Regions from separate parts of the Homo sapiens genome. Here region 1 is linked to region 2. The links come from fine-mapping of genetic effects on gene expression. A gene starts in region 2. The other region holds a variant in brackets. All regions are shown on one strand. Distances are from middle to middle.

What was found. PIP is the estimated chance that this variant, and not a neighbour inherited with it, causes the effect.
Region 1: its variant is the best candidate, but not a certain one, in a credible set for the expression of PCID2 in blood mononuclear cells (TOPMed, PIP 0.51).

What each region holds. Positions count from the first base shown.
Region 1 is chr13:113,158,981-113,161,880 of GRCh38, reverse strand. PROZ (protein Z, vitamin K dependent plasma glycoprotein) reads right to left here. Exons shown (of 8, transcript NM_003891.3): 2 at 1,704-1,867; 3 at 909-933. Among named protein-coding and RNA genes, the nearest start is that of PROZ, 1.8 kb to the right of the region's middle. RefSeq lists an enhancer at 2,019-2,596. The variant C/GC (reference allele first, on the strand shown) is at 1,607.
Region 2 is chr13:113,207,068-113,209,948 of GRCh38, reverse strand. PCID2 (PCI domain containing 2) reads left to right here and starts at 1,280. Exons shown (of 14, transcript NM_001127202.4): 1 at 1,280-1,350. The coding sequence starts at 1,315. CUL4A (cullin 4A) reads right to left here and starts at 336. Exons shown (of 20, transcript NM_001008895.4): 1 at 174-336. The coding sequence starts at 321. RefSeq lists silencers at 1-80, 141-470, 571-840, 1,101-1,390 and enhancers at 925-1,574, 1,575-2,225.

The DNA.
Region 1 (2,900 bases), 48 kb after region 2:
TGGCAGGGACGGGGACCTGAGCAGGAGGAGGATGGGGGGACGTGGCAGGGACGGGGACCTGAGCAGGAGGAGGATGTGAGGAGGTGGCAGGGACGGGGACCTGAGCAGGAGGAGGACGGGGGGGCAGGGGGTGGCAGGAATGGGGACTGAGCCTGCTCATGCTGCTCCCCATGCCATCGCCTGGCCCCCAGGACGCTCCCCGCTCCGGATGTAAGGCCTGGCTGCCAGTGCCTCCCACTCTGCTGGGTGCCCTTTCTTCGTCCGCACGCGGTCCCCTCTGTCCCGCCCCATCAGCCCTTCTCCGGCCTTCCCTGCCTCTCCCGCTTCCTTCTGTGCCCAGTTGTCCCCGTGCTTGTCTGGTGGTGGCTGCAGCTCTTTGCTTACTCATTCCCAGGTGGGTCCTTACCCTGGCCTCCCCCAGCCCCGTGGGTCTCCATCTGTGTTACTTCTGTCCCATGCTCTTCTGCAGTTGCCCACCTAGAGCTCCTCCCTTGGGAGGAGTCTCCTAACCAAAGTCTCCATCGGGGCCATGACTTTCCAAAATTTGAGACGAGTTCTGACCCTGCTGCAGCATGAGGCTTCCCAGGAGCCCAGGAGCCAGGCGGCTGGAGGAGCTGCTCTGGGGGGGCCCTCCTGGCCTGTGGCCCATGTCCCAGAGTGCCAAGAAACTACCCAGACACTGGGCAAGACAAACCAGGCACTGCCTGTGGCCCTGGTGGCAGAGCCCGGGGGCTTCCTGACCTGGTCCTTGGGGAGAGTCGGAGCTGCCCTTCCCTGGAGAGACACCGTGGGTCCTGGAGCCAGAGGCTTGGCATCCGCTGAGCTGGGGTCGTGAAGCGTCCTAAGCCCACCCACGCACCTCATCCCGAGGAATTAATACTTCTGAGGAGACGAAGGAAACCACTTACCCTTATATCGTCTCCAGAATTCATCCTTTAGAGTTAAAACATAAAAATGTTACAAATGGGATATTTGTTTTTCTATATTCTTTCCTGTAGATGAACTTGAAGGTAAGAAAATGTTGATTTTATTCACTTAATAGGACAATAGTGGTTGAAACAATGCACAATTTTCCTGTTTTACAGCCTATTTGTTTATGTTAAATGTATAGTAACTAAATGTATCTGTAAGATATATTACTCAACATGTGCTTACCACCACCTATTTGAGGAAGGCCAGAGTCTATGACATGGCACAAACCCACCACCCACAGCCCCTAACGTGGCCCTTCCCTTCTAGGGCCAATCTCCACGCCACCCTCCACAAAAGCACATGATATAGAAGTCACATCACCTTTTCGCTTTTTATAAACCGAGTTGAATTTTAAAGATATATACCTCTGTAGGGAGTGGGGACACTTAGTTTGGGGTAGGAGTATCTAAAATTAGGAGAATTATTCAGACTTGAAGCCTAGAAAGAAAATGTATGCTGGGTGTCTGATCAGTGTGTGGGCCTTGCCTGACCTGAAGAAATGAGTCCAGTGGGCTCTGAGCTGACTTCCAGCCCCACTCACTGCTGTAGGGAAAGGTGGATTAAGTCGATTCTCTAAATTGTTTCCTCATCTGTAAAACTGGGATTGTGTCAACCTCATCGGTAAGTAAATAGG[C/GC]TAATTAATTAAGCTTAATCTCTGAGAAATGATGCTCCCTGGGCCAGCAGAAGTCTAAATAATGAGGAGGCCTGTGGTTTGTGGTGGGGGTACATACAGTGACTACTTCATTTTCAAACACTTCTCTTGCTTCTTCATAGACACAGATTTCTTCATAACATTCTTTTTCCAAGTTTCCCTCGAAGAGTTCTTCCAGAAGATAGGAGCCCGCACGCTTCCACCTCACCAGAACGTCGTTTGCTTTGGAGGCCGGGAGAAATACTACAGACGAGACAAGAAGGCAGGTGACTGGGAGCACCGAGGGCCCTGCTTTCCAGAGCTGCCTGGCTTCCTCCCCGGCCGGCCGCCAGCCCCAGCCCCGTCCGTCTCCACAGGCTCTCAGCCTGCGAGGGCCTCAGGGCCACCCCGCTACTCCCTCCCCCGAGGTAGGCAAGCACTTCATCCTCTGGGCGAATGGATCAGCCCCAGGATCAGTGCGGATACACTAAGGTTCTGCAGAGAGGCCACGGGCCTCAGTCAGGAAAGTGGAGGAGGGAGGGCTCCAACTGGGTTTTGGGTCTGAGTGCGAAGGAAGGCTGAGCTGGGGTCAAAGGTCCCCGTACTGAGAACTGGGGACCAAGAGCCATCAGCTCCTGTGCTGCCTCTGTGCGCAGCATTTAACATCTTGATAAAACACATAAAGAAGAAACTTATACATTGCAGCAGGCTCTGCGATTTCCAGGAGGAGAAGGCAAATGAGTTGACCCGCGGCAGTGGTCTCTGGAGCCTCTTCCCACCTGAGGGTCCCAAAGCATGTTCTCTCCCTCTCCGGGAGGGTCAAAGCCCAGGCCCTTCCCATCCTCCCTCCTTTTCTCTCGGTGCTGAGGGTTACAGCAGGGGGGGCTCAGCTAAGTCCGGCTACGGTAAGTGCTGGGCAGGGCAGGGCGGGGGGATCACCCTCTCAGGGTGGGAGACCATGGGGCCAGCGGGAGACCATGGGGCCAGCGGGGATGCTGGGTGTTTTGACTTGCAGCTTTCCTGGACGCCTGTGCAGGCAGAGTCAGAATGGAGTCCATGTCGTTCCTTCAGTGAAGTGGCTGGTGGTAGAAGGGTGGCAGGCAGGCAGGGTGGCTGCTCCCTGGCTATGTCTCCTGACTCAAGACTGGGCATTCCTGGCTGGCCTGGCCAAGGCTCTCTCTGCCCACATTGCAGTCTGGGCTCAGCCTGCCCCACCCCCTCCCCTCGTCCAATGCCCAACCCAGGCCTCCCCCCACTCCTCCCCCTTTCCCCCTCCCCTCTCCCCGGCCTTTCCCGG
Region 2 (2,881 bases):
GGCTCAGGGCGCGCCGCGAAGCGCCCCGCGTAGCCACCCCCGACCCGGCCGGCGCCCCGGCGCCCCCGCTCCCGGGGCCCGCACGGATCTCGGGGCCTTCCCCCCAAGTCGGGCGGGGTCTCGTGGGGTCCCCGCCCGGGGCGCCTGGCCCTCGACCCGGCCGCCGCACCCACCTCGGAAGTTCTTGATGACCAGCTTCTTGGAGCCGCCCGCGCCCCCCGGCTTGGCGGGCGCGGCGGCCAGGGCCGCGGGCTTGGTGAGGCCGTTGGTGCGGCCCACGAGCGCCGAGAAGCTGCCCTTCCGCGGGGCCTCGTCCGCCATGGCTGGGCCGGAACCGCCGCGCCCCGCCCCGAGCGCCGCCGCCCGCCGAGCTCCGCTCCGCCCGCCCCGGTCCGCGCGGCCTCCGCCCCGTCCTCCTCGCGCGCCCCGCCCCGCCCCGCCCGCGTGCCCGAGCCCAACCGCCGCCGCGCCCGGCTACTCCTGAGGGCTTAGGAACGCGCGCCGGGAATCCCTCCTGAGGGATCGGACTCCCCCTAAGAGATTCGGACACCCCCTCCTGGCTCGAGGGCGCGCGCCGGGACTCCCGTCCTGAGGGATCGGGACCCTCACCCCCGGCTCCGGGGGGCGCACCGAGACCCTGCCCCCAGGGCTCCGGGCACCCCCTCCTGGCTCGGGGATGCGTGCCGCGGGCACCCCTCCTGAGGGGATCGGGAGCCGGGACACCCTCCTGAGGGCCCCGGGGCGCGCGCCTCCTGAGGGCTCGGCACCCCCACCCCGGGCGTGAGACCACCTCGAGGGCTCAGGGGTGCGCGCCGGGACGTGCCCTAACTCCTGCAGGCTCGGGAGCGCGCGGCGGAGGCACCTTATGAGAGCTCGGGAGCGCGCGCCATGTCCCTCCCCCTCCCCCTCCTCGGGCGCGCGCGCCCCGAGGCCCTGGCCCAGCCAGGCGCGGAGGGTCCTCCGCGGCCTGGTTTTCACAAGGGGCAGACGAAGGGTCAGCGCAGTGAAAGGCAGTTTAGCCGTGGGGCTGTCCTCGCCACTGGACCCCAAACCCCTCAGCCCGGGCGGGCCCGAACACACAATCAGAGCCGCTGGCGTCCCGGCTGAGAGGACGGGGCCCCGGCAGAAAGACCCCGGGCCCCCTCAGCCCGAGCGCGTCGCCGAGCCGGTCCCCAGGTTCTCCCTCCGGAACCAACCTGCGCACCCGCGGCGGGGCCGGGGGCGCCAGGACCCAGACGGACCGAGGGCCGGAAGTGACGCCAGCTGGCCCGCTTGAGGCGTAGGGGGTGGCGCTCTCCGTTCGGCGGCGCTCCCATGGCGCACATTACCATTAACCAGTACCTGCAGCAGGTGGGTCCTAGCCGGGGAGCGCGCGGCGGCGTGGTTGGCCCTCGGCGTGTTCCGTGTGTCCCCTCCTGCCTTGGACCCTCAGGCCTTTTCCTTTCCCGCCTCGCCACCCTTCTTCCGTTCGGGTCCCCGGCGGGCAGCCGCGCGAGCCGAACAGCGGCGGCCGGGACTCGGGAAGGCGGCCCGAGTTCTCCCCTGCAGGGCCGCCGTGGGGGCCGGGCGGTGTCCGTGGATCGCGGAGTCGTCGCGGTGTAAGTAGACGCGGCGGTCCCAGGTCGCTGCCCTCACTTGCTGGCACGTGTGGCCGCGCTCCCAGGCGGTCCGAAGGGCCTGCGGGCCACGCCGAGGGCCCGCTGTGGGCGGTGCTGTGTCGGATGGACGCTGTTTCCCAGCAGGATGCGGGATGAATTCGGGGACTCCAGGAGGCGATGGAGGAGTAAGCGCGAGGCTGTGGCCGTGCTGCAGGCCGGGCTCGTGCCCCTCGTCCTCGCTGTCGTTTAACGCCCTTCACTCTCCGAGCACAATGCACACTTCATATCGCTCGGTACATGCGTCTGACAGATGTTGTTCAACAGCTTGTAAGTAGCAGAAGCACAGTTAAAAGATGGACACTTGTAAAGATTCAACGCATATTCTTTCCACTAAACTATGCCTGTCTTCAGAACCAGCACTGTGGTAACAGGGATAGGAAATATAGGGAATGGATTTTTAAAATATTTGAAGGAAACATTACCAAGACGTGGTGAATAAGAATGGGTGGGCTGAGGGACACGGAGGAGTTAAGAATGATTCCCAGGCTTGTAATCTGGGAAAAAGATGAATAGAGTGGATTTGGAGGGAGAAATAAAGTTTTGGGCATGTTGAGTTTGAGGTGTCTGTTGACAACTGGGTAAAGATACGTACTTGATAGCTGAAAAGTCTGACATGATTGGGCCCAGCAGTTGCTTGGTTAATTGAGAAAACTGGTTAAAACAGGAATCACGAAGAAATGGATGTATGTTTTTAACTTAAAACATGAAAGTATACATTCACTTGCCAATTTTTTTTTTACACCACTTACCTCAAGTTCTATACTTGCCAATCTTTTGATGTAAGCCCAGGGCCTTTTCTTTAGGCTGTGTCTGTTTTGGCCTAATCTTAGCAGACTTAACATTTTCCAATATCAGTTTATTTAAAGTTAAACAAGGATATAGGCATTTAAGAACCAATTTGATACGATTATCTTTAGAATTTTCTTAATCTTTTACAATTTTTCCCCCATACCTAATTATTTTTTTAACAAACTCAAGTGAGCCTTTTAAAAACATACAACTTAGCTTATAGAGAAACAACTGTTTCCTTTTGCATTCATATTTCATTGATGAGCTTAAAAGTACATAACTACCATAACAGGTTCGGGTAGCAAAAATAGATTTGAGAACAAACACATCTGGATATGAGAACACATACAACTTAGCTGGCAAAAGCTTGCGATGTATTAGAGTGAAGCCTACTTGCTGAAAGTCGTCATCATACCTTGGGCATCAGCTCGTGT